Homo sapiens: one gene and its partner. The protein of the gene in region 1 interacts with the protein of each later gene in a pairwise test. Each region holds a gene or a part of one and is shown in the gene's direction. Other genes may lie near its edges. The genes, in order: SULT1C2 and HLTF.

Evidence for each region.
Region 2: the proteins of SULT1C2 (region 1) and HLTF interact in a two-hybrid assay, tested with the Homo sapiens proteins (one large-scale study listed by BioGRID and IntAct).

What each region holds. Positions count from the first base shown.
Region 1 is NC_000002.12:108,287,395-108,291,932, forward strand, and holds the start of SULT1C2 (sulfotransferase 1C2), read left to right. Parts: upstream 1-1,500; 5' UTR 1,501-1,676; intron 1,677-4,538. UniProt on the Homo sapiens protein: Sulfotransferase that utilizes 3'-phospho-5'-adenylyl sulfate (PAPS) to catalyze the sulfate conjugation of phenolic compounds. Does not transfer sulfate to steroids, dopamine, acetaminophen, or alpha-naphthol.
Region 2 is NC_000003.12:149,029,360-149,032,139, reverse strand, and holds the end of HLTF (helicase-like transcription factor), read left to right. Parts: 3' UTR 1-2,013; downstream 2,014-2,780. UniProt on the Homo sapiens protein: Has both helicase and E3 ubiquitin ligase activities. Possesses intrinsic ATP-dependent nucleosome-remodeling activity; This activity may be required for transcriptional activation or repression of specific target promoters.

The sequences.
Region 1 (4,538 bases):
TGGAGGAAGCAGATACTAGCAGTGGTTACTAACTGTAAATTCTGGGATTGTAGAGACTGTGACCCATGCAGACAGCAAAGGCAGGGAGATGCAGCATGCAGCGCAGCATGGCACCGATACTGGCAGACACTTTAGTAGACTTAGGGACTTTAACTGCAGAGAAAATGTGAGGTTGCACTAAGAACTGTGAATCAGCCCTATGGGGCTGAAAATTGACAGCACTGGGATAAGTGGAACTGGAAAGAGAGCAGAAGTAGAAAAATAAAGTTCAGCCGGGCGCAGTGGCTTATGCCTGTAATCCCAGCACTTTGGGAGGTCAAGGCGGGCAGATCACCTGGGAGCAGGAGTTGGAGACTAGCCTGGCCAACATGGTGAGACCCCGTCTCTACTAAAAATACCAAAAAAAAATTAGCTGGGCATGGTGGCGCACGCCTGTAGTCCCAGCTACTCAGGAGGCTGAGACAGGAGAATCGCTTGAACCCGGGAGGCGGAGGTTGCAGTGAGCCAAGATTGCACCATTGCACTCCAGCCTGGGCAACAGGAGTGAAACACCATCTCAAAAAAAAAAAAAAAAAGAAAAAAGAAAGAAAAAGAAAGTTCAATTTATTGGGAAAAAAAGAGCCCTTTGGAAACAAGGAGGAAGAAGAAGTGTCGGCAAAGAAGCATTAGGAGGTTCAGGGTCAAAGAAGACAAGGAAAGCTTTGGCAAGAAGGGCAGATGGGGTGCAGAATTATGCTTCAATTCCAGAAAGGAAAGCACTGGGGTAGATACAAGGTTGGGGCTGGCAGAAGAGTAGCAGTTCAGAGATCATTAACACTTGATCCATTTAATTTCCCAGGTAACCAAAGACACCATGGAATATAATCTGCCTCCACTAAAGTGTACCTTTTGTACAATAAGGCAAAGAAAAAATAAGTACACACCTAAGCTCTAGACTTTTGTTCTATCCTCTCTGCATTTTCGGTGTGGATGAATACAACTTGGGAAGAAAGGAAAGAAGAACCAGCAGTTTTAAGCACTTACTATTTGCTCTGCAAAGTGTATTCATCAACATTGTTGCTTTCAATCTTAAAGCATGGATTGGAGACAGGCAGTATTACCCACACTTCATAGATGCAGAAATTAAATCTCAGGCTAAGGAGGAAGGAAAAGGGAGTTCACCAAATAAGCAGGAGCCTACCTGAAGCCTGATGCATCTGGTCCTAGAGCCAACCTTCCATTTCCCCCCAGCCCCCACCTGTTTAAGCTTCGAGGCCAGTGGGAGGAGGGAGGGGCCAGGCAGCTGAGGGCCAGGAAAGATGTGAAAAACTCTAGCTGGTGACCGAGAGGAGGAGTAGAGTGTGCCCTTAGTTCATATGAACTAGAGGGAGTTGGTATTTGCACAGCAGTCAGGGTCACATGAGTGATCATGGTACAGTGAGAAGTTCTCCCTCCCAGGGCCAGGTCACAGGGTTTGTTTCTGTTCAATCCGGATTCTTCCAGTAAAAGCTTCAACTTCCCACACTGAAGCTGAGAGCCTCCCAAAGTGCTGGCTACCTGCTGAGCGCCCCCGTAACTCTGACACAGTAGTAATTTGAGCCTCTGCAATTGCCGTCTGCTTCCTGTGAAAGTCCTTTCCGTGCCCACTGACCCTTGAGTGGGCCTTTGAGCTGCTGACTTTCAGCTGGAACTTGAAGGTAAGAATATGGCTTAAAAGAAATTCTGTACCTAACTCGTTAATTTATTTTTTAACCTTTAGCCACATAGGTGTGGCTTTACAGATGCATTTATTCAAACCAGAAAAGATCCTAAGAATCTGATAAAATAATATAAAAGAGTTTTGTTAACAGCCTCCAGCCTAAAAATTCAGACCTAGAAATTCAGGACCCCCCTCAAATCACCTCCAAAAGCTCTCTCTCCTGTAATACTATCTCTGTCTCCCACCCTGATCTTTTCCCAAATACCCTCCCTGTCCCATCCTCCTCCAGGGCCAGCTCAACTTCTCTGGCCAAGACTATTTCTTCTTCCATGACAGCCCTCCTCTTATGCCAGCCATTGACTAAGACACATGCTGGGCCTGCAAGGGGACTGAACCAGATCCTGTGCTCCAAGGGTCCAGACTTATAAGCAAGTAATTGTAGGACGTGGAGTAAGACCTATAAAATTTGCACACAAAATACTATAGGATCCCATGGAAAGGAGTGATTACTTCTGTTTACAGAGTCAGGGATGCCTCCACAAAGGAGGCCATAGTGATCTGGCCTGATATGATGAAAATGTCCCTGCTGGCTGCTCAAGGGGAAATGTATGTGTCTACATGCCTGACTCTCCAAGGGCAGGAACCATGTGCTGATGTGGCCCAGCAATGAGGGGCCTGGGGAGGGTGAGAAGGACTTGGGACTTCTCCTGTGGGAACTGGCAGATCCCTCTGCTCCCACTGCACTACCCAGCTGCCTCAATCTCTTGCTGCATCTCCTTCTCCCAGCTTTAGCCAGGTTCTATCACTCCCCGTGCAGGCCTCCAACAAGAGCAATACAGTGGGATCCATAGTTCACTGGACAGCCAAGCCCTTAACCGCCCTGGTCCTCAGCAGCAGCAGGTGCCCTTCCACACATGTTCACAGCTGTGCCCAGGCCCTCGGTCATCAGCTACCTGCCCAGAGCACAACGCCTACCACAGAGTTGGTCAATGTGTTGCGTGGATTATTCTCAGGGCATTAGTTCAAGGCCAGAGCCCTAAGCTCACATGTACACCTGCCTACAGGTGTACATTGGGAAGTCCCATAAATACATCAGACTCAACCCCAGAATTGGACTCACCATCCCCTCACCCCCACCCTATGGAGGACCTTCTCACTGTGTCCTTACATGGTCTTTCCTCCATGTGCACACATCCCTGGTGTTGCCTTGTGTGTCCTAATCTCCTCTCATTACAAGGATACCAGATTGGAATAGGTCTCATCCTAGCAGCCTCATTTTAACTTAATCACCTATTTAAAGACATTATCTCCAAATACAGCCACATGCTAATATACTATGAATTAGGACTTCAACATATGAACTTAGAGAGACACAATTCAAACCACGATAATGTCCGTCTTAGTCCATTTTATGTTGCTATAACAAAATACCTGAGGCTGGGTAATTTATAAATATAAGAGGTTTATTTTGAATCATGATTCTGGTGGCTGAAAAGTCCAAGAGCATGGTGCTGGCATCTGCTCAGCTTCTCGTGAGGGCCATGCTGCATCAAGACATGGTGAAGAAATAGAAAGGCAAGCAGGCATGTATAAAGGGACCAAACTCACCCACTTCTGGGAGATGGCATTAATCTACTCATGTGGAATCCACCCTTATGGCCCAAACACCTCTCACAAGACCCCGTGTCCTAGCACTGCCACACTGGCAGTTAAACTTCAACAGAGAGTTTTGGTGGGGACTAACCACATCCAAACCACAGCAGTATCCAAAAAGTGTTTTGTAGTTTTATGTTTATATATATGTATACTTTTTGTTCATAACTATGTATAAACAGTTTTCTATCACTATCACTGCCATAACAAATTATCAAAAATTTAGCAGCTTAAGACAATACAAGTTTATTATCTCACACCTCTGTAAGTCAGAAGTCCAAACAGGTGTCTCTGGGTAAAATCAAGGTGTTGGCAGGGCTGCGTTCCCTTCTGGAGGGTCTGAAGAAGAATCCCTTCCAAGCTCATTCTGGTTGTTGGCAGAATTCAGATTCATGTGGCTGTAGGATGGAGGTCCCATTTGCTTGTTGGCTGAGGTTCATTCTCAGCTTCTGGAGGTCATGCCTTGTCTTGTGTTCCCCTTTGTCTCTAAGCCATCAATGGCAAGTTGAGTCATTCTCATGCTTCCAAACTCTCCAGCCACTTCTTCTGCCACACGACTCTCTGACTGCTCTTCTACACCCTTGTCCACTTTTAAGTGCCCTTGTGGTCACATTAGACCCACCGGGATAATACAGGACATGCTCATTGCCTTAAGGTTCTTAACCTAAATTCCATCTGCAAAGCCCTTTGCCACACAATGTAATGTATTAGGAATTAGGACGTGGACATCTTTAGGGCCATTATTCTGCCTACAACAATATACATTTGAAAAAGACAGATAGAAATACATCAAAATAATAACAACTCTTGTGTGATAGATGTTTTCCTTGTACATTTGGACTGTTTCCAAAGTTTCTGCAATGTATAACTTTAAATTCACAATAAAAAAAAACAAGAGGCAATTTTTAAAGAAGGAACATAGGATTCGTATACAGATGTTGGCTGCGATCCTGGGCAAGTTATTGATCGTGTGACTCTCAGCTTCCTCACATTTATGAGGGTGATAATTATTCCTTCCTAATAAAATTGTCATATGAATTAAGAAAGAAAAAGAAAAGTCCACGAAGGACCTAACATAGAAGGCCTGCAAGAAATGTTTGTTCTTATCCCTCCTCTCCTGAATTTGATCATACCATTATCTCAGGAGTACTGTCCAAACTCCACCTTCTTTGATGTATTATAAATACAACTGCTTCTCATATTTGAA
Region 2 (2,780 bases), on another chromosome or scaffold:
ATCTAGAGAACACGTCTTCTAAAAGGGGCATATTTTATATTAGTGAAGAGGTATTACTGACACAATTTCTTCTATATATGAACCTATTTTTAATGAAACTTCAAATAGCAATAAGTTCCGTTATATACTGTGGCCTGAAATAATTTGAGAAAAAAGGTTACTTTGTTATTCAGCTTTTCATAATATCTATGCTGAGTATTTTCACGTATCTTCCAAGTACTCAGCTTTTTCGTATTTCAAATAAGGTCAGACCTTTTATACTTTTGACCAAATAGTTATTTTCTATGTTGGACACTTAGTTATTTACCAAAGCCTCCGATTTGTGATGCAGTGTTTGTAGTCCTTGTAAACAATATATACAGACTATACAAGAATTAATTTTATTGGGCTTTCAAAAACCATATTTGCATTCCAGAACCAAATCTTAAATGAGACCAAAGTCCAGGTTAGCACAGGTTTTTATTTTTCCTACAGCTACATTGAGATATAGTTCACATAAATGACTTGGAGTTTTATGTTCATGAAAAAATTAGGGATTATGTTAAGAGTACTATTTTTTCCATTTTAGTTAAGTAGTACTACACTCATTGTTTAAATGTAACTTGCTGTGTCTGAGGTATAAATATAGTCTGTGGGAGTGAGAGGCAAACCAGTCCTACCCAATTTGATTTGAATATTTTAAATTATGGAACTGCTAAATAGATATTTCTATAAATAGATAATTTTTATTTATGTAGCTTTTTTTGGAAGTAACTTTATAAATTTTTATAATTCAGAAGACTACTATATGTGAGAGGCGTGATATCTGGATGGAAGTTGGGCTGGATGATCTCCAAAGTCGTTTCAACTCTTAAAGACATCTTAATCCTGAATGTAAACAATTGTTATGTGTTTAGAATCAGAATTTGATTTTGAACTTGAGTAATTCATCCTTACAGCTATCTGTAGAATTAGTCATCTTTTTTCTTTTCTTTTTTTTTTACTTTTTTGTTAATAAGCAAACTTATTTGCTGCAGAATTTGGGTTGACTCCTGAGCATATTTAAAACAAAGAAGCTAGAAATTTAGCAGTCAGATTAGGTAGGTGGTTTTATTTCAAAGGGAAACTTTAATCCAAAGAAAGATTAATTACTCTAACAAACAAGAGAAGCTTCATGTTTGATGATACAGATTTAAGAATACCTGAGACTTAAGAGTGTTGGAAGTCATTTGATAGAAAGATGAGATCGGAGACAATGTTGTGTTATAGGGCACACATTGAAGGTATATGCCAAATCTCTCACCAGATAAGTCCTTTTCTCCCTGTGCCGTTTTCTTGCTCAAAGGGAACAGTGAATTAGCCAGCTAGAATCTTCCTGGTCCCTTTTTGAGGCAGTAGCAGGTAAGGAAAGGGCTGATTTTCATCAAAACCAAGACCTTTCTGCAGGGATGATAGTGGAATAATAATGTGGGATTAGCCCGCTAGCATTAGGAGCAGTTGGGAAGTTACCTGGTAGATCAAGCATTACACACAAAAAATCAAGTTGATCAGAGTATGGGTTCTCCATATAGCAATACTTCAGTGAGATTAAGTATAAACAGTTTTTGGCAAAAAACAACACAGTCTACTCTTTCTGCTTACAAAGACAAAGCCTTACAAACTCACTATGAAGGTAAAGGGAGGACAGCTTGCTTCTTTGCCCAGACATTTACAAAGTTGTTTTTAAAACACACTCATAAGTAAGTTTGGCAAGTTGTTTAAAAAATGTCTCTTTGTTTTGTACAGTTCTGTTAGATGTTGTTATATTTTAAAAGTTTAATTTAAAAAATTTAATTTGTCCTTCCTAAGAAGGATAAATATATAAAAAAGCCACTGGAATGAAAACTTCCTATATGCTATGCTGTTGTCTTATTATTATATAGAAAAATAACTTTAGAAAAATATTGAAGACATTGTATTACCACTTGTGATTCAAACAATTTTGTGGTTAAAACTGGATTTTAAATTTAAAAATCAATAAAAATTTCAAATGTTTATTACCTTCCTCGGTGCCATAATTTTGACTTTATCTTCAAATAAAATCCTTCATTAATTGTGACATTTCTATGCAAGTGTTACATTTTTTTGAGAGTACATGAAGATTACTGTAACAGAATAATGTCCTCATATCCTAACTAACTTTATTTTGCTCAATTTAGCTGGTTGAAATTCTTGTTCAGAAATCAAGAGTGCTTATTTAAAATGCCTTGATCTAAAAACATTGGTCCCAATTAATTTCTTCATCTGGAAGAAAAAAAGGAGTTGTGATAATACCTATATATACACAGATAGCACTCTTAATCAATCATTGTACATTTTGTCCTTAAAATTACAGCTCTAGAATTGGAAATACAAACTAACCCTATGTAGTTTGTTACCAGTGAGTACTAATGATCTTCGGCAGTGTGTGCTTTGTTTTGGGGAATGGCAAAGACATTGCTGTATTTTTTTCTTGTTTTATTTATACTACTTGTCAAGGTTTATGCATTAGCATTTGGATGAGATTCATTAAAAATATAAGGGCACATTTGATGTTTGGCTCTTAACAAAAACTCAAATGTTTAACCTCAAGTTTTTAACACATTAACTTCAAAATATCTGCAAAATGTGTTATACAGCAGGACAATATGGGTATAAGGAGAATTAAGGTAAACAAACATTTACTTTATGCATAAACCATAGCTCCATCCACCATGGAGCTAATCTCCAAAGGCATGGATTTGACCTCTGTTGTGGGCAAGTTTGTCTTACAACCAAAGGTC